Regions from separate parts of the Homo sapiens genome. Here all the other regions are linked to region 3. Evidence: fine-mapped QTL for protein levels in blood plasma. A gene starts in region 3. Each other region holds a variant in brackets. All regions are shown on one strand. Distances are between the middles of the regions.

Region 1 (5,151 bases), 63 kb after region 3:
ATCCACAAAAATGTTTATTCAAGAGAGGGACATAATTAAATCTATGTTGTAAAAAGACCAGTCTGGCTGAAGAAGGAGAAAGAGATTATAGGGGGCAAATAAAAATGGGGGTACCCTAGTGAGAAGGCAATTGTTCTTATTCAGGCAAGAGATGATGATAGAGATGGAGAAAGAGATTAATTCAGAAGGGATTTAGGAGGTAAATCCAATAGGGCCTGGTAGGGGCAAGATAGGAGTGTGAAACTATGCCCCCAAAGAGTTAAAGAAACCAGTCACTAAGAAATTCTTGAGTTTACAGGATAGCAGATAAGAAAAAAAAAAAATTGCTAAACTGCCGAAACTTCCTCCACTTGTAGGATAACAAAACTGACTAAAATCTGTTGGAACCAATATGGCCAACTGGAGTTTGCTCAGAATGAGCTTGCTGATGTCACAGCCTGAGTTTCTACCACGTATTTCATGATGACGCCCCAGGGTTTTGCACATGGGAGCCGTGAAGAGGCATAGAGAGATAACTGTACATGCCCAAGGACTTTCCAGACCTCCCCTTTCCTTTCACAAATCACATACTAATCCCAGAATCCAACCCCTAAACTTTTGCTAATAAAACTACTGCCTTGAAGCCAGCACATGGAGCTAGATTTGAGGTAGACTTCTGTCTTCCTGTTAGTCAACTTGCAATAAAAAGCTTTTCTTTTCTCAAAAGCCTGGTGTCACAGTATTGGCTTCTAGCACATCAGGCAGCAACCCCCTTTCACTTGGTAACAAGTGGATAAGTGAGGGTATAGAACATGAGTCCCTTCCTGGTTTGACAAACTGCTTAGATGATGGTACCATATACAAAACAGGCATGGTGTGGGAGAAGATAAGGTTTGTGAGTGCAGATCTGAAACTCAAACTTGAATATTTAAGGTATACAAAGAGGCCAGGCTCAGTGGCTCACACCTGAAATCCCAGCACTTTGGGAGGCTGAGGCAGGTGGATCATCTGAGGTCAGAAGTTCGAGACCAGCCTAACCAATATGGTGAAACCCTGTCTCTATTAAAAATACAAAAATTAGCCAGGCGTGGTGGTGGGCGCCTGTAGTCTCAGCTACTCGGGAGGCTGAGGCAGGAGAATCACTTGAACTCGGGAGGCAGAGGTTGCAGTGAGCCGAGGTCATACCATTGCACTCCAGCCTGGGCAACAAGAGCGAAACTCTGTCTCGAAAAAAAAAATACATATATATATATATATACAAATGAAGATGTCAAGAAGGTTGCAGAATATACAGGTCTGTATCATGGGCCCAAGATTACTCAGCTCTTAGGAGGTGCGTTCAGGATTCTAGCCTAGATTATATCTGATTCCAAAGCTGGCACTCTTGGATACTGACCCGTGAGTACTGACTCTCCAAGGAACTTAGAGTCTAATGAAAGGTGAGAAGATTCCTCAGAGTAGGGGAAGGGGAGGATGATGGAGGCTGGAGGAATGTTCCTGTCTAGTTCCAAGCAGGGGCCATGGATAGGAATTCCTTTGTGGAATTCATCATTTCAGAACAACGGGATAGGATGATGACATCACAAGGGGATGGGGACTCTTGTCGTCTCAGAGAGAACGTGCCAGCCTGGCTCTGCTTTCTTTTCCTAGAGGGTCTAACACCTCTCCCGGCCCTGACATCTAGCTGGTTCCTGAGGAGGAGGCAGAAGTCATGAGGAGGCAATGGGGAAACAGCCATGGCAGCCAGTGCCTGCCTGTGGATGCTTGGACATTAAAGGGTCACCAGCTGAGTGTGGGCTGAGTGTCCCTGAACACAACATTTGTGCTTAGGAAGAACCCATTCCAGAGCTGAGAGAGAAGGATGCCAACATGCTGCTTCCTCCCTCTTTCTGGGGGCATTTCTTCTGCCCCTCCAATCCCATCTCTGAGAGCTGGTCCCAGGTCCAGCCCAAGCAGGAGAGGCAGCCCTCACCTTCCCAGGTGTTTGTAGGCATGTTACTCTCCCTCCTAGAGAGTGTTCCCCGCAGCTCCGCCTTCCCTGCAGGCCTCCTCCATCCTCTAAAGCACAAATCATCACCACCTGCACAACTCGAATGTCTTTCTCAGCCATGCCTGATTCCTCTGCAGGAAGGAAAAAGGAAGCAGTTCCTGGTAGTGTATGGAGGGACCCACAGAAAAGCCAAGAGCCCACAGCAGATATTGCTTGTTTTTTACCTCTAACTACTCTGGAGTGCAAGAAAGGGCATCCATTGTAAAGTCCAACTCTTACCAAGTGGGTGAGGCTATAGACATCTTGTCTCTTTCTTCAGCTGTGCAGCTCAGACAGGCCCAGATGTTGAGCTCATGCAGGAGCTAGACCCATACCTGCGCATCATGTGGATGAGGCCTTTGTCTAGCCTATGTGTCTGAGGCTCCTAGATAGGCAAAGGCCATGAAGTTGGGGAGAACCTGTGAGATGGGATGAAACTCAGGAAGGAGTATAAGGCTGTGGGTGTCAAGCCCCCCAGCCCCAGCAAAGCTAAATACTTCCAGCAGCAACTTCCTAGCTTGAAGCAACCTTGTCTGTTCAATTTTATAATCACAAAGGAAAAAGTGTCCCAGTCCCCTGGCCTTTCCTCTCATCACAATCCCCTTCCTCTGACATCACAGAGGCAAGAACT[G/A]TCTTCTCTGCTCGGAGCACTGAGTCGAGGGCATCTCCAGGACAGGCATTCAGGCAGAGCAAGCTCCAGGTTTCACCACAATGCCCATCCCTGCCTCCCCACTCCACCCACCTCTGCCTTCCTTACTGCTGTATCTGCTGCTTGAACTGGCAGGTGAGTGGGGCCTCAGTGTATGTGTGTGGTGGGTTCTCCCCTCTGCCTGTTTAGTGAACTCTCCCTCACCTGTTCCCATAGAATTTCTTTTGGGAGGGTTTTCTCCATCTTATCCCAGAACAGGCAGAACTCAGAAGACTACACTGGGATGGTCCCCAATTCTGACAAAGTCTCCCGGTGGCCATGTCTGTTGCAAATCTCTTTGCTCAGGTAAACGACTCACACCTATGGTCACAGGGCGGGGCACAGCATCCATCACAGCTCTCACCCTCCAGCCTCTGGAGGGTGTAATTTATTTTATTTTATTTTTACCTTTACTTATTTTTTTGAGACAGGGTCTCACTCTGTCACCTAGGCTGGAGTGCAGTGGTGCGATCTTGGCTCACTACAACTTCCACCTCCTGGGCTCAAGTGATTCTCGTGCCTCCAACTCCCAAGTAGCTGGGACTACAAGCACGCGCCACCATGCCCAGCTAATTTTTGTCTTTTTTGTAGAGATGGGGTTTCACCATGTTGCCCAGGCTGGTCTCAAACTTATGAGCTCAAGAGTTCCACCTGCCTCGGCCTCCCAAAGTGCTCGCATTATAGGCGTGAGCCACCACACCTGGCCCCTGGCAGATTTTACACTTCTTTCTGTGAAATTCAGTTTTTTATTTCTCTGTTGCCACTGCATTTGGCTGCTCTTAAAAAGTACTGCAAACTGGGTGGTTTAAATTACAGAAATTAATTTTCTCACAGGTCTGGAGACTAGATATTCAAAATCGAAGTGTGGGCAGGGTTGGTTCTTTCTGAGGACTGTGAGGTTGAATCTGTTCCATGTCTGTCTCTGAGCTTCTAGCAGTGGTAGCCTCAAACATTTGTTGGATGGCAGGTGGCACCACCCTCCCTGTATCCTCACATCATCTTACTCCCATGTATGTCTGTCTCTGTGTCCAAATTTCCACTTCCTATAAAAACATCCACCATATTGGATTAGCACCCACCTCAATGACCTCATTTTAACTTGATTTCCTCTGTAACTCTATTTCCAAGTAAGGTCACATTCTGAGCTACTTGTGGTTAAGACTTCAACATATATTTCGGAGGCATACAATTCAACTCATAATAGCCTCAACATGAAATTTTAATAACTTAGATATATTCTTTGTTGGTTTATGTACTGCATTTATATCTGTCTGTGCTTTATACATAGGAAGGGTAACTATAAAGCTTCCTCTTTTTATTCAATGGAGAGTTAAGGATGACTAAAAATATTTAGGTAAAAGCTAACTTAAGATACTTAAAGCTAGTAAAACTCACTTGAATTTTTAACTGTACTTATTGGGTGAGGTACACAGACTGTAAGGTGACTCCCAACTATCCCACCCTTATGTAATCTCAGTTGTGTGTGACATGCTTCTATCTGATAGAATATGGCCAAAGTGATGCACTGTCTCCCCCTTGAGTATGTTAGGTTGTGTAAGATCTATCACACTAGAGTTTTTTTGCAACTTCTGGCCTTAAAGAAGCAAGGAGCCATGTTGCAAACTGCCTGTGAGAAGGCCCACATGGCAATGAACTGAGGGAAGCCCCTAGAAGTTGAGGGCCTCAGTCCTACAACCACAAAGACCTGAATTCTGCCAACAACCTGAGTGAACTTAGAATGAACACTTCCCCAGTCAAACCCCCAGATGAGAACACAGCCCAGCTGGCACCTTGAGTGGAGCTTGGTGAGACCTTGAAGCAGAGAACCCAGCTAAGCTATATCTGAATTACAAATGGACAAAAATTGTGAAATAATTAATATGTGTTGTATTCAGCCTCTAAGTTTGTCGTAATTTGTTATTCAGCGATAGAAAAGGAATATACCGAGTAAGATGGCAAAACCATTCAAAATAAAGTCCTCCATTGTTTTGTAGAACTTATTTGTTTTTAAAGGTGTACAACTTGATGGTTTTTTAAATTTTATCTTGGTTTTAATTGACAAATAATAATTGTATATATTTATGTGGTATAATGTGATGTTCTTATACATGTCTACACAGTGAAATGATCAAATCAGGCTAATTAACATATCCATCACCTCACATACTTATCACTTCTTTGTGGTAAGAACATTTAAAATCTACTCTTTTAGCTAGTTTGAAGTATGCATTAACTATAGTCACCATGCTGTGCAATAGATCACCAGAACCTATTCCTCATGTCTAACTACAACTTTATAGGCTTTGACCAGCATCTCCCATTTCCTTGTCCAACTCTCCACCACCCCAGACCCTGGTAACAACATTCTATTCTTTACTTCTTTGAGTTTGACTTTTTTGGATTCCACATATAAGCGACATTCCACATATAAGCAAGATCATGTGGTATTTGTCTT
Region 2 (5,151 bases), 49 kb after region 3:
ACAATTAGCAATTTGCAGACACCCTTAAAATTCATCTACATGGAGAAACTGCACTCGTTGTTCTGATTCTCCAATGTGTTTGCTTTCAAGGCCCAGAATAGGTTTCTGTCTGTTGGTGTGGCCTGGGTCTTTGTCTCTTGTAATTAATTAACGATGAAAAAGCTAACCACCTTTGGCTTTCTTAGTACTCAGTGATCCTTGTTTTTCACCCAAACCTGTCCTAACTGAAGATTCAGATTCCCAAAAATTTCCTCTTTTCAAATTTAGGACTTCCAGCAGATTAGAACAACTAACAACAACAGCAAAATGATTGTTAGGAAGGCCAAAGGAAATAGCATTTATCTGAAAGATAAAGAGGTGCAATTTGGGTACACTGAGTCAGTGAAACCCTGAATAGTGTCCCGTATGGCAATACAGGACAGGTTTTTTATAGGGGATTTTCACAAAAGGTTGTTTTTGGAAACAGTTCATTAGCTGGTTGAAAATCCTCAACTGCAAACCCACTCTCATTGGTTATTTCATTAAAGTACTCCAGGTGAAAGAGATCAAAATCCCACGGACCCTGGCTTCAGTTGTTATCCAGGTCTATCTACTGCAACATCCTGTGGCTTGACCTTTAGCAGGTGTGATTCCAATGCTCTTACAAACTCTTGGCTCTACGTTAAAGCTTTATCCTTAATTAATGCCTTTTATTTGACAGAACGAAATATTTGTGAAAAGAAAAATACGGAATGTTTCATATTTTTATAATACCTAAAGAGAGACCTCTGTGTATCTGTAAAGTCTGGGTTAAAGATAGATCTGTGTTTTTTGGGGGAAGCATCTTCTGTGTTTGATCCAGAGCAAAACTGCTTCCATTGCCCCATTGAATCCTGGCGACATCCCAGGAAGTAGAAACGCCGTCCTCCGTCCTCCTGTTTTGCGGATGAGGAGCTGGGGTTGTCAGCCCACCCCTGTCCTGGGCTGAGCAGCCTGGTTGCAGCTCTCACGGTGGTGCCACTTTGCCATTGATCCCTGTATTGGCTTCTATAAATGCCCTCTCTGAGGTTAGTGAGCCTTCCGGGGGAGGACAGCTAGGACCAGTTAATAACATGGAGGGAGACCAATCAGTAATTTTGTTCCTATGCCCAGATTGGTGGAAGTCTCCCTGTGTGGAGAGGACTTTGAACTCAGGCCTGGACTTCCCTCTGGGCCCTGCCCCTACTCACTGTCTGACCATGGCCTGGTTCTCACCTCTAAGAGCTGTTGTGTCCTGATCTGTAAAATGAGAATAAGGACACTGCCTTCACGACATTATTAGAAAGATTAAAAACTAACGTCTCAGAAGGTTCTTAACATGTCAAACGCTTATCATCAGTGATGGTCATCTGAGTCATGTCTCCTGATTATCGATGGTCCTTTTGTAGCCAAACCCTCTGCCCCCGTGGTATCGGGCCCTGCGGTGAGGGCCACACCTGAGCACACAGTGAGCTTCACCTGCGAGTCCCATGGCTTCTCTCCCAGAGACATCACCCTGAAATGGTTCAAAAATGGGAATGAGCTCTCAGACTTCCAGACCAACGTGGACCCCGCAGGAGACAGTGTGTCCTACAGCATCCACAGCACAGCCAGGGTGGTGCTGACCCGTGGGGACGTTCACTCTCAAGTCATCTGCGAGATAGCCCACATCACCTTGCAGGGGGACCCTCTTCGTGGGACTGCCAACTTGTCTGAGGCCATCCGAGGTAGAAGACCCTCACACCCAGCCCAAGCCCACACCTGGCTGCCAAGCCCACTCCCCTCTCCCCAGGCTCCAGAGCTTGAAAGGCCTGGAATCTAATTCCTAACTGTGTTGTCCACCTCCCATGCACCTAGGTGAGCCGGTCACTTACTATCATTTTAATGGCAGCTGTCAGGGGACCAGCAACCATGTGCCAAGCTCTGGGCTACAGAGTTTCATTTATTTCACCAAGAGCAACTACAATTAGTGAGCACCTACTAGGAGCCAAATCACTATGTGCTCGGCGATTTCACTGATTTTGCTACAGTTCTTACATTCCAACTGCATGCCAGGGGTTGTGCTTGTAGATTTCACTCATCCTTAGCCTAGCAGCAGCTAACAGTCCTTGGGCACCTACTGTGCGCCAGGCACTGTGCTTAGTAATTTCACTCATATGCAACGAGTGCCCTCAATGTCTGAGCACCTGCTGCCTGCCTAGCACTGTCCTGGTGATGCCCTCACTGTGTTGGTGGGAGCTACGTTATTTAGCCCTCCCTGTGATCTGTCTGTGCCACAAGATCAGAGCTTCTGCCCTGTGCTGTTTCAGTTCCACCCACCTTGGAGGTTACTCAACAGCCCATGAGGGCAGAGAACCAGGCAAACGTCACCTGCCAGGTGAGCAATTTCTACCCCCGGGGACTACAGCTGACCTGGTTGGAGAATGGAAATGTGTCCCGGACAGAAACAGCTTCGACCCTCATAGAGAACAAGGATGGCACCTACAACTGGATGAGCTGGCTCCTGGTGAACACCTGTGCCCACAGGG[A/G]CGATGTGGTGCTCACCTGTCAGGTGGAGCATGATGGGCAGCAAGCAGTCAGCAAAAGCTATGCCCTGGAGATCTCAGCGCACCAGAAGGAGCACGGCTCAGATATCACCCATGGTGCGGTTACTTCCCATTTTTAAATTTTGTCTTTTTCTTTAATGTTAAAAGCAATATTCATGCTTGTCATAAAATAAGCTAGAAGTCTATAAATATAAAGTAGAATTTTAACGTCTACATTAAAATCCTACACTCCATGGGTCACCACTACTTAGAAGGTTCAAGGTAACAATTGGCCATTTGTAGACACCCTTAAGCCCCATCTACCAGGAGAAACTGTGCGTCAAGTCTGATGCACAACTTGATAGATATTTTGACATAAATATACATTAAAGGAAAAAAGAGAGAGGGAGGTGATCCGTTTGTTTATGAAGTCCTGTGTCTCGCCTTCTTCTGCATTTCTCGCCAGCACAGCACCTTGCCTTTTACACTTTCTAACCTCTACCTTGTCCCTATTCTATCCTAAACTTTTCCATCCGCATCTGTGACCTCAGCCACCAGTCTCCAGCATCTGCTCTATAAATTTCAGAAAGACAAGTGAAGTTTAAGCCTGGACAGACCCCCAGGTGACCTGGTCACAGCACAGGCTTCTTTTGTGTTCTGATGGTGATATTTGACCAACAATAATCACAACCACTCTGCACATTTACTATATGCAAATTTCTGTTCATCTCTGATCTCCTTTCCTGCTTCAAACACCCAGTGAGCTTGGAGTTTTACCAAAGGGGAAACCAGGACTTAGGAAGTAATGAGGGATGTTGTTGAAGACTTCTTGTCATTAGACCAGGTTATTGGTCCAAAGTAATGAAGGTAAATCTAGTCCCTGAGGACAGGCTCACTACCAGGCTATAATGGGAATTTGTGCTAATTAGAGAAACTTTCCCTTTCTGCTGCGCTTTGTCCCAAGGACCCAAATTTGGCCAGTGTTCCCCCTCTCTATAACCAAAATATGTCTTATTTCCCTCTCTTTTAATACCAGGAGGGGTCCCTCTACTCCAGTCGAAAGACAATCTTTGAGTGCTTTGACCCGAATACATCCTCCCACATCTCAGGGTCCCACAACTTCCCCATCAGGGCCCAACCCCAGCATAGAAGCCATTAAAGCTGACATTCAACATCCTTTGTGATTCTGCTACTCTTCTAATGATGGCTGGGGCCCAATCTTCTATTCTTTCTGCCCTGAGGCTCCAGGAAATAAGAATAAGGACTCAGGTTCCTTCCAAAACACCCTATGATGTTTGCGTCATCTCCTGGGTCAGTGCTGAGTCACGGATTTGTTCATGTCCCTGCCTGCCAGAAGAGGAAAGACACGAAATAGAAGACAAACAATGTCCCCAATCATCAGAGATGTGTGGAAGGTGCATAGTCACGTCCACTGAAAACTTGCTCACGCATGCACCTGCAGTTGCACATTGAGGGATCATGTGATCAAGGACATTTTTCACAAAACCAGTGTCATTGTCCACTTAAATTTTAAGTGTTCAAATCACTAAATTTCATAAAGTTATTAAAATAATTTCCTCATATCATCTAAAATGGAGCATACATTCACATTTTACCAAATTTTTTAGAACCATTTTCCTGTGTGTTAAATTTGGTTTTAATTTATCTTTAAATGCTTGTGTTTTCCTTTGAAAGATCTGGGCCCCAGGGATATTTTTGGATATTTTATAATCATAGATTCAATGTCGTTAATAGTTTAGGGTTATTCACATTTTTCGTTTCCTATTGAGTGAGCCCTGGTAAGTTGTGTTTTGCATAACTTTTGGTCCATTTCATCTAAGTTGTCATATTTATGTGTGTAGAGTTGTTCATAATATCCTCTCATAACCCTTTTGGTGTCTGCAGGGTCTGCAATGGTATCCCACGTTTCATCCTGATACTAAAAATGTGTCATTTCTCTTTTCTTTTTCATCAGTCATGCTAGAGTTTTTTCCCATTTTATTGGTGTTTTCAAAAGATTGACTCTTTGTTTCAATGGGTTTTTGTATTGTTTTTGTGTTTTCAGTTTCATTAATTATCTGCTCTCTTCTCTCTTTTTTTTTTTAAATTAATTCCTATCTCCTGCTTTCTTTGGGTTTACTTTGCCCTACTTTTTGTAGTTTCTTTAAGTGCGGGATTTATATTTATTGACTTGAGACCTCCTCTTTTCTATGTCCTCCCTTCATCACTTTCTGTGGCTGGGGGCTGGTATTTGGGCATAGAGTCCCTGCTGTTTGGCTGCTGGGCTGTTCCTCAGTCCTCAGGTTCTTACCTCGCTCTTCCACCTTGGAAGTTCTCCTATGCCTGCTCCTCATGATATTTCTTGGGTTCATAGTTGTACTTCTCAAGGAGGCACAGGATGAGATGAGTCTGTACCATCTGGACAAGGTTGAGTCTTTTCTTAGACTTCCAACCACCCACTGGGGCTGAGAGAGGGCTGCCATTTTTGGGTTCTTTCAGTGTGTCTGACATGGCATCCTGGCACATATGCTAAGTCTGGAAATGCATTTTAGGTTGTCTAGGCTGGCAGGCAAACTGCAGGATGCCTTCTGTGACGTGCTGCATCAGTGGCATGGGAGCCTAGTGAGAG
Region 3 (5,151 bases):
ATTGTATTTGCAATGTGATAAGGACATAATATTTGAAAGTGGGCAGGAGAAAATGATAAGGTTTAGATCTGTGCCACCACCAAAATCTCATGTTGAATTGTAACCCCCAGTGTTGGAGGTAGGACCTGGTGGAAGTTGGCTGGGTCTTTGGGTCAGATTTCCCTCTTGGTGCTGTTCTCATGATGATGAGTGAGTTCTCATGAGATCTGGTGGTTTTAAAATGTGTGGCACCTCCCTACTCTCTCTCTCCCTCCTGCTCTGGTCGTGTAAATATGCTCACTTCCCCTTCACCTTTTGCCATTTTTGTAAGTTTCCTGTGACCTCCCAGAAGCTGATACCAGCATTATGCTTCCTGTAAAGCCTCTGAAACCATCAGCCAATTAAACCTCTTCTCTTTATCAATTACCCAGTCTCAGTCTCAGGTATTTCATTATAACAATTATAGAAAGAACAGATTAATACATCCACCTATTTGTTTTTTAAACAATTTAGCACTAATTATATTTTTTCAAAATTCTTCTTTTTATTACTTTTCTCAGATACCTGTTGTTACTGCACACCTACCTATTCTTGTTTCACACGTGACTTTGTTTTATGGATTTACTTTCTTTTCATTATCTCTATAAGGTTACTAAATATGTTAATGTTAAAAATATTTTCACATTTTATATTTTTATTTTCTGAGGTATTATTTTCTAAGATGTTATTTTCATTGCTGTTTTTGTTTTTTAGTTATTGTTTTTGAATTTATTATGATGTCGCTTTTCCCCAAATCTTTAGTGATTACTGCTTTCACTGTAATCTTTACAGGAATAATGCCCTGAGTGATCATGGGCTGTCAGCACTTTATGGAACATGGCACCTATCCCAACCTTGCTGTGGAGGCTGCGCCTAATTGACGTTATGGCTTCTTCTCTGCTTCCTTCCTGAGAGATATCTCTCCCTTCTTATGAGAGGTGTCATAGTGAAGGCCATGGAGTGTGACAACCTGTGTTCTAGTTCTAAAAGCTGGGTGATGTTGAACAAATGTATTATTGCCTGCGTGCCTCAAGTTTCCTCACCTATAAAAAAAGGTTAATGGTAGTGCTAATTTCATGGGACCAGAGTGATGAATTAATGAGGTAACTGACAAAATGCTTGGCACAGTACCTGGAGCACAGGACATCTGCAGTAAACACAGCAGCTACTACCCTTCATGTCATATAGAGACTAGTTTCTTGTTTTAAAGTGTAATTTGGCATCGATTAACATGATTTTATCATTTTTATATTCATTTCTGTGAGTGTGGAGCAGGAGGTGATGATTTCACCCTCTGTGCATCTGCCACATTGAAAAAGAAATTTGCATGGAAATGTGATGACTTTTACAATTTCATTTGACAATTACTCATGATAGGTGAAGGATTGCAAGCCCAGCATGGGAAAGAGAGGTTTCCAGACAGGTCTTTCTTAGTCACAGATGATGGAGGAGAAACCATTTCTCCTACCAAGGAAATTTTTCTAAAGCACAAGTATGTCAGGGAAGCAGTGAACTCACCCTGTACACAAATGTAATTATAGCCACAATTTTTTGGTTATAATTAAATATGAATCAAACCTTCTGTATGGCTTATATTACTCTTACCATATCACTACAAGGTGCATGTTATAACTTCCATTTACATGTAATTAAGTTAAGGCTTAGAGAAGTCAAGTGTCTTGTTGAAAGTCACACAGCTGGAGATTGTAAGAAAAGGAATTCATCTACAGATTGACAAAAAGCAGGGTGAAGAGGATCCAGAGGGAGAAATTGATCTCAGAGTGTCAGAGGTAGACCAAGTACACCATAAAAGCTGGGTTCCAGAAGTCCGGGGAACATGGGAGAAGGCCACTGGTGGGAAACTCAGCATGCAGTAGAAATCCATTTAAAAGCAATATTTGAGTTCCCTCTCTTCACCTGGCACCATGAGTATCAATAATAACCTACTGAATCTCAGGGATGTATAGTCATTATCTCTTTTGATGTTCACTAAAACATGGCAGTGAGACTTATTATCCCAAGGTTAGAAGGCAAAACTGAACCTAGGCAGGCCCAGTAACTTCCCCAACTCCTTAGCACATCTTCTTAGGGTATTTATTCTCCCTCCCTCCTCAGTTCCCATCTGAAGACAGTGATGAATGGAATAGGTGTTCTATGTGCAGAGCAAAGAGTATTGAAATCGATGTGACTGCTCCAGGAATCTGCCCTCCATATTCTCCCCCATAATAAACATATCCCCTTTCCATAACCCATAATCCCCACCTCACCTCACAAAGCAGATCCTTATTACCCTAAGCCCACTTCCTCTCCTGGAAGAAGTCAGGAAATAATTCCTTCTGCTGGGTGCAGGCATATGAAAGTGCTAACGGCCACATGAGACTGAATTTGGGCTAAGTTTTGCCATTTATATTTATAAAAGTTCGGAATAGGGAACCATTTCAAGAGCAGACCTGTTCCTCTCCAACACTGAGCAGGTCCAGTGATCCCTCATCCTGCCCCAACTGAGTAGCACTTGGTTGAGGCTGTTGTAGAATGAGACCACAAGCCAACCACATCCTGAGGTCTTGAGATGGAAAGTTTAGGAAACATTTCATAACCACAGGTCCTTCCTGGCTTAAGAGCACCAAATGGCAAATCACCAAGAAGACATAAAGATGGGGTTAGGAGTCATGGAAGGAGTTAAGACCTCAGGTGGGAAGGAAGCATTATTTCTGCTAAGCCTGTCTGATTCTCCTGAAATGGGGCATGCATAACTGCTTGCATTGTAGCTGCTTGCTGTTCCTGATTTCTGTTTCACAATCCAGAAGCAGGTTACTGCTTCACTCCATCGCAGCCACTTCCTCTTGAACTAAGGGAGGCAGGGCTTGTCTTCTCTCCTCAGAGCAGAGTCTGCGATCTTCCCAGCACAGACGTTTGGACAGAGCAGGCTCCTAAGGTCTCCAGAATGCCCGTGCCAGCCTCCTGGCCCCACCTTCCTAGTCCTTTCCTGCTGATGACGCTACTGCTGGGGAGACTCACAGGTGAGCACTGCCTTCGGTTAAAATCTTTTTTCCTGCCCACTGAGCCATGGCCTGTCCCTGGACTTTCAGGGATTCCGGACAATGACAAGTGCTGCCAAGAAAGGCCAAGGATTAGGCTTTGACTGAGAGCAGAAAATCAGGGAGCTGAGCACTTTCTCTGTGGATCTGCAGCTGGCTACCAGAGGCATTGAACCACAGGACGATTCAACCACCACAACAACAATTACTTACATTTTGATAATATTTCAATTGAAAAAGCAGAGAAGAATCATTATCTAAATCCTCACCAGTCCTGAGGCCCTAGGGCCAAGTGACATGCCCAAGTCCACAGAGTAAGCTCAGAGACACCCTAACAGGGTTATGTGGCTCTAGGCCCAGCCCTCTCTCTTCACCAAACTGAGGATGTGAAGTCTGTAATAGTGCTCACTTGAGTAGGGCAGTGGTGTGGTGTATCCTGGGAGTGTTCAGCCACCATCCTCCCTAAGGGTGCTCCTCACTTTGTCCTCTGTTCCCCCATGCTCCTCCCTCCCCTGTGACCTGATTCTTACCACCCATTTCTCTGTGGCCTCTTCCTCTTTAAGAAGTTCCACATTTGCTGCTTACTGGGTCCTATATTCCTTTCCTAGGGCTTCCATAACAAAGAACTGCAGGCTGGGTGGCTGAAACTACAGATATTTACTTCCTTGCAGTTAAGGAGGCTGAAGTCCAAGATCAAGGTGTCAGCAGGGTTAGTTTCTACTGAAGTCTCTCTCCTTGGCTTATACAGGGCCATTTTCTCTCTGTGTCTTAAACACATGATCTTCCTCTGTGTGTGTCTGTGTCCTCATCTCCTCTTCTTATGAGAATATCAGTCTTGTTGTATTAAGGCCCACCCCAATGACCTCATTTAACTAAATTACTTCTTAAAGACCCTGTCTCCCAAACTGTAACGTTCAGAGGTGCTGGGGATTAGAGCTTCAACACATGCATTTTGTGGGACACATTCAGCCCATAACAGGTACTACAACCTCCTTTGGTTCTCTTAAATTTCCCATGGATAATTTCTTTCCCCTTCCCAAGACAGGCAGGATTGGAGGGCCTTTCCTGGTGCAGCCTGGGAGAACCCTGCTCACAGCTCCCAGACAAGTTACCTGTCCTGATCCCTTCTCAGGCCATGGAGCTGACCCCAGAACCACAGGGCTGGGCACAGCAGCCTCTCAATTCCCCACTGGGCCCTGCTGTGATGTCACCTCACAGGCCCTAGAGGGCAGGGGTCTCACTTTTCAAATTATTTTTCTCACACATACACTGTACCCAAATGACAGCAGTAAGAGTTTAACAATTGAGCTCTTCCTACCATGTAGACACAGTTATTAGCATTTTGCCTGTTTTAGCTCCACTAATCCTCACAACATCCCTGTGTGAAAGCTGCAACTATTATCCCCTATTTCCAAACAAAGACTCAGGCAGAGGGAGGAACTTGTCCATTCATTGTCCCCTACCTCAGTCAGTGGAGCAGCTGAGATTCAAGTCCAGGTCGACCGGCTCCAAAGTTCATTCTTTTAGTCGTGTTATGCTACTAGCAGAAATATTAGAAAATGCAGGGAAGTAAACATAGAATTAATTATTGCCTACCACACTTGTTAGCAACAACCAGAGTTACAACTGTGATGTATGTACTTCTAAATTTGTTATTAATGTGTTGGATGCTTTCTATGGGCCACATATTTTACTTTCTATGGGCCAGATATTTTAATGAGATTTTAACGTGTGTTGTAATTTTATTTAATACACAAAACAAACTTATATACTATCACAATAGGTCACACTTTGATATATATTTGTGAATGTATATGTGTGTGTCTATATATACATATATATGTGTGTGTGTGTATATATACATATATGTGTGTGTATATATATTTGCAAATGTGTGTATACATATGTGTGTATACATATGTATATGCATGTATGCATATAAGTAAGTGTACATGCACACACAGGAGATTTCATTTTTTATCATTGTTTCTCCAAGTTTCTAATTTCAATGAAACTTTTAACAAAATATTTTATTTTTATTTGACAGAACTGTATATACTTATCATGTATACCATATTAATGAAATATGTGTACA
Region 4 (5,151 bases), 83 kb after region 3:
GGCCTGTCAGCAGCATAGAATAAATCTTCAAGGCCAGTGTCTTTAAATCTCTCTGTGTTCCATTTTCACATTGCCTTCTCACAATTAAGCTACCAGATTCTTAACAAATCTGTATTAGTCATCTATGCTGCATAACAAATTACCCAAAACTTAGTGATTTCAAACAACAAACACTTACTGTCTCCCAGTGTCTGTGAGTCAGGATTCTAGACATAGTTTAGGTTGAGTGATCTTGGTTTAAGGTCTCTTTTAAGGCTGCAATCAAGGTGTCTGCCAATAATGCAATAATCCAAAGGCTCAACTGGAGAAGAATCCACTTCAAGCTCACTCCCATGGCTATTGGCAGGCCTCAGATCCTTGCGGGCAACTGGCTGAAGACATCAGATATCTGCTACATGGGCTTCTCCATAGGACAGCTCACAACATGGCAGCTGCTTCTCCTCAAGAAGCAGGAGAGAGGGGAAGAAGAAGATACAAGTCACAATTTCTTTATAAGCTAATTTCAGAAGTGACATCCTGTTACTTTTACTTTTTCATTAGAAGTGAATCACTAGATCCAGAGGAAGGGATTACATAGTGGGGTGAATGCCAGGAGCTGGAGATAATCTCAAAGGCTGACTACCACAGCAGTTCTCTCAGTAACTAGGAGGACATGCAGACAAAATGTCAGTAAGGATACAAAAGATTTGATCAAGGTGATTAACAAATTTGATGTAATTGAGCACTGCACCCAACAACTGAAAAACACAGCTCCTTTTCAAGCCCATGTGAGATATTAACTAAAATTAATCATAAGCTTGGTCAAGAAGCAAGTCTCAACAAATCTTGAAATATCAAAATTATATAAGTATGTTTTCTGATCATTGTGGAATTAAACTATAAATATTTACAAAAAGATCATTAGAAAATCCTCATATATTAGGAATTTGGGAAATAATCTAAATAACTGATTTATCAAAAAAGAAATTACCACAGATACTAGAAAATATTTTGGACTAAATAATAATTAAAATACTGCACATTAAACTTGAGGCATGTAGTTACTGCTGTACTTGGAATTTATAGCCTTAAATCCCTATATCAGAAAAATAAAAATGATTGAAACCCAGTAATGAAAGCATCCATTACAACAATTTACTAAAACAATGACAAAGGTTTAATTTTAGTGTGGTCAGTGGGGGTGGGGAAGATGTTGCCAAGGGTGCTGTCTAGTTACTACTGCTGCATAGCAAAACACCCCAAAACACAAGGTCAAAAAAACAACCATCTTATTATGATCAATGACACTGTGGGTAAGGAATTCAGACAGGGTACAAGAATGACTTATCTCTGCTATATGTTGCCTGGGGTCTCAGTTGGGAAACTCACCTGGGGATGACTCAACTGCTGGGTCATCTGGAAGCTTCTTCTTTTACATGTCTGATGATTGATAATGGATATTGGCTGCATCTTAGCTGGGATGTCAGTTAGAACTCTTACATGTGTCCCTGCAATGTGATCTCTTCATGCATGCTAGTTTGGGCTTCCTCATAGCATGGTGGCAAGGTTCCAAAAATTAGCATCCCAAGAAAGCCAGGTAGAAATGCAGGGAATTATTATGGTCTAGCCTCAGAAGTCACATCACATCCCTTCTGTTGCAGTCACAGACCTGCCCAAACTCAGGGGGAGGGAACATATGCCTACATCTCCATGGGAAGAGTGTCGAAGAGCATGAGTGAAGAGGGACCTTGTTGCAGTCAGCTCTAGAAAATAGAATCTGTCATCAGTGAAGACAGGGATTAGAGTTAGAACAAAGAGTGCTAAACGGAACACTCTGGCCAGTTCCTTGTCAAGAAATCCCTCTCAGAAAAAATGTTTAACAAGCTAGAATAAGGTGTCGAGGGGAGAGGGACACTCATCATGCTACAGAGCAATCAAATCTCATCGCTGATTGGCCCCTTTCATTCCACCCCTTCTCATCACCATTCTCATCACCAACATCCGGTCAGCCACTGGTAAGGAGGCAGGGGTGGGGAGCAGTGGGGAAACTGAGTCACAGGAGGCAGTGTCTGGCACTGGGTCCACAGAAGTGATGAGCTCATGGCTAGAGGCTCTGAATGTGATTTCATGTGCAGGTGGCTGCTGCTCAGAAGGAGGAGAGGAGATGTATTCTTGGTGTGAGTGTTTCTACATCTCCTCCACTCCCTTCTCCCAAGAGGTGGCCCCAGACTAGGGACAGAAAAAAGAGATACCCCTCCTCCTCCCAGCTGC[G/A]TTTCTGCATGTCACTGTTCCTGCAGTATGAGCACACTAAGGCCCTGCACCCCCCGCTTGACACACACAGGCTTCTTCCCCTTTTCTCTAAAACAGAAACTATCCTCCTCCTCCCAAGATCGAACTCCTTGCTCACTCAAAGTCACTTCCCCTGTAAGCGTACTTTGAAGAGCCAAAGCCTCCCATCAGATATGGCTTCAGGATCATTTTTACAACTGACACCTCTGGAGTGGGGAAAAACAGGGATCCACACCTGTGAAGCCCCATTCCCGGGAGCCCTCCTCCTGACTAGCTGCACAGCTCATCTGAGCCCAGGTCTTGGACTATCACAGGAGGCTGGACACACCGTTCTCTATGGCAGACCCTGTTCCTGGGCTCCTGGATGAGGAAGGGTCACCAGCACACCTGACACAAAGTGAGGGGCCCAAAGGACACAGCCTAGGCACTAAGGGTGTCTGCCAGGGCCCCTCCAAGCACCTTGGGACCCTTATATCAGTAACTTATTAGCTTGTGTCTGATTCCTATTTCACAATCTAGAAACTGGAACGGTCATAATCCTACAGCCCTTTCCTCCCATCATAGTAACTTCCTCTTATATCATGGAACACATAGTTTTGCCTCTCTCAGCAGAGCAGAATCCAAGACCTCCCAAGAACAGACCTGCAGGCAGAGCAGGCTCCAGGGCCCACCATGATGCCCATACCTGCCTCTCGGCCCTGCCTGAGAGAAACAGCACAAACTATTTCGTCCAACCCTGCTGCTGCCTCCGGCTGCTGGGACTCACAGGTGAGTGCCCCCACCCTCAGGTACCATGATGCAGGGATGCTCTCCTGAGTTTGGCGGCGGTACCATTTCGCCACCTGCAGTGGGGCGGATGAATCTCTGTTGTCCTAGGGCCTCTTTCTTTGCCACCCCTTCCTCTTTAAGACACTTCCCTAAATAGTTTGTTTTATAACTAGTGTCTCCAAAACAAATCCTTCCAGAATTCTTCTTGCTTGGAGGGGTTGCTTTCTCTCCCATCCAGGCGTTTCCCCATGACAGGGGTGCCCAGTCCCTCTCACTTCCCACACCCCTGATGTCCTGTGAAGGTTCCACGACCCCCTAGGCCTGACCTGCAGGACCTGATGCCATCCTGAGAGAAGAAGTAGAGGAGCAGCATTTGACCCCTTGGTCCCCAGGAGGGAGACAGGGATGCTGTCATTAAGATGAGTACACATGGATGCATAGGTGATTAATAGATAGATTAGATAGATAGATAGGTAGATAGATAACAACAAGTACTACACATGCAATGTAGAACTATTAGAAAAAATTGCTAAATGGTCCTTTTTAGACTAGTAAGTCTCCCAGAATCTCAGAAACCTAGGATTACGTTCTTGATGCGGGTGTTTCTCCTGCCTGTCTACTCTCTTCTCTCCAAAGATGATCTGCACAGTCAGGAGAGGCAACCATTCTTCTCCCAGTGGTGTTAACATCTCAATTTAGAGTCCAACTAATAAAGTGGTTAAAAGCACAGGCATTAAAAAAAAAAAAAAAAACGACAGGCCGGGGTTCAAATGCAAGTTTCATCATTTGTAGGCTGTTTGACTATGGATAAGTTACTCAACTTCTCTGTGCCTCTGTTTTCTTGTCTGTGAAATCGGGATAAATAATAATGCCTTTCCAATACAGTTGTGGTGAGAATCAAACTAGTTAATTAATATAGTTAAGTTTTTGGAGTAATGTGTAGCACACAGAACCACCTATGTGAGCTCTGGTTGTTACAGCCTTTTAGGGCTTAATAAGTGCAAATATGAGCCCACGAAAATAGTCCTGCTGCATCCGGCCATTGCAACTCTCACTCTGTGTCTTTGGCAAGTCTATGTCTTCACTTAGAACTCACAGAAGTCATGGGAACTGAGAAAGGTCCATCAGGCTTGGTAGAAGAAGGAACTGAAAGCCAAGCAATGGTGTGCGCTTCCTAGAATCACCAGGTTGTCAGGGCTGGAGCCTGGCCTACTGGACTTGCAGTTAAGAATGGAAAGCCCATTTCACAGAAGTCCTTCTATGAGCACAGTCCTGAGTGTTTCTCAAAGATTTTCAGGTTTCAGTATCACAACAAAATTGCAAGAGGAAGTTTTACTTTCCACATTGTATACATTACATAGATAAGAAAACAGAGCCTCAGGGAGGTTATTTTCGCAAAGTAAAACACCAATGTCAGTCCTTTTTCTGTTGCTTAGAATAGAATACATGAAACTGGATTATTTATAAAGAAAAAGAACCTATTTCTTATAGTTGTAAAGGCTGAGATGTTCAAGGTCAAGGGGCCATATTTGGTGAGAGCTTTCTTGCTGGTGGGGACTCTCTAAAGAGTCCTGAGGCAGCACAGGGTATCACATGGTGAGGGGACTGAGCATGCTAGCATACTATACTTGGGTCTCTCTCTCTCTTCTTATAAAACCAACAGTTCCCCTCCCATGATAACCCATTAATCCACTAATTTGTGAAATAACGCAGAGTCCTTATGACCCAATCACCTCTTAAAGACCCTACCTCTCAATACTGCACATTGAGGATTGAATTTCAACATGAATTTTGGAGGGGACAAATATTTAAACTATAGCAATCAAGCAATAGAGGAGGCATTGAAACCTGGGTCAATGGGACTCCACTAGCTCTTACTTTGACCTCTTCACTGTGCTGCTTCTAGATACATCGAACTTTTAACAAAAATAAGATTACACAAAATATGGTGGTTTATTTGTTCTTTTACTCAATGATAAATTGGGGACCCTTTTCTATGTAAATATATATGTGTCTGCAACATCATCAATACATCCCCAATATATACATCAACACTATCATTTCAATCTCTACATAGTTTTCCATTTTGTGGTTGTACCATCATTTATCTAACTC

Alleles and levels. Alleles are on the strand shown, and positions count from the first base shown. The strength of an association depends on the size of the effect and on how common the allele is. Not every link is listed here.
In carriers of allele A in region 1, the plasma level of the protein whose gene starts at base 2,898 in region 3 tends to be higher than with G alone (strong association).
In carriers of allele G in region 4, the plasma level of the protein whose gene starts at base 2,898 in region 3 tends to be lower than with A alone (strong association).

Evidence for each region. PIP is the chance, under the fine-mapping model, that this variant and not a neighbour inherited with it causes the effect. Protein levels are from antibody-based Olink assays in UK Biobank. Linkage for the fine-mapping came from a reference panel and not from the study's own genotypes, which makes the PIPs less certain.
Region 1: its variant is fine-mapped to the plasma level of the SIRPB1 protein (UK Biobank, PIP above 0.99).
Region 2: its variant is fine-mapped to the plasma level of the SIRPB1 protein (UK Biobank, PIP above 0.99). The variant lies in the coding sequence of SIRPB1. If it changes the protein, the assay may bind it differently, which can mimic a change of level.
Region 4: its variant is fine-mapped to the plasma level of the SIRPB1 protein (UK Biobank, PIP above 0.99).

What each region holds. Positions count from the first base shown.
Region 1 is chr20:1,555,222-1,560,372 of GRCh38, reverse strand. SIRPD (signal regulatory protein delta) reads left to right here and starts at 2,668. Exons shown (of 4, transcript NM_178460.3): 1 at 2,668-2,792. The coding sequence starts at 2,720. LOC107985409 (a long non-coding RNA gene) reads right to left here and starts at 2,366. Exons shown (of 3, transcript XR_007067493.1): 1 at 2,249-2,366. The variant G/A (reference allele first, on the strand shown) is at 2,640.
Region 2 is chr20:1,568,293-1,573,443 of GRCh38, reverse strand. It overlaps SIRPB1 (signal regulatory protein beta 1), which reads left to right. Exons shown (of 6, transcript NM_006065.5): 3 at 1,407-1,724; 4 at 2,307-2,639. Among named protein-coding and RNA genes, the nearest start is that of SIRPD, 13 kb to the right of the region's middle. The variant A/G (reference allele first, on the strand shown) is at 2,526.
Region 3 is chr20:1,617,756-1,622,906 of GRCh38, reverse strand. SIRPB1 (signal regulatory protein beta 1) reads left to right here and starts at 2,898. Exons shown (of 6, transcript NM_006065.5): 1 at 2,898-3,038. The coding sequence starts at 2,963.
Region 4 is chr20:1,535,040-1,540,190 of GRCh38, reverse strand. SIRPD (signal regulatory protein delta) reads left to right here. Exons shown (of 4, transcript NM_178460.3): 3 at 2,881-3,036. LOC105372499 (a long non-coding RNA gene) reads right to left here. Exons shown (of 4, transcript XR_001754464.2): 3 at 179-434. Among named protein-coding and RNA genes, the nearest start is that of SIRPD, 20 kb to the left of the region's middle. The variant G/A (reference allele first, on the strand shown) is at 2,251.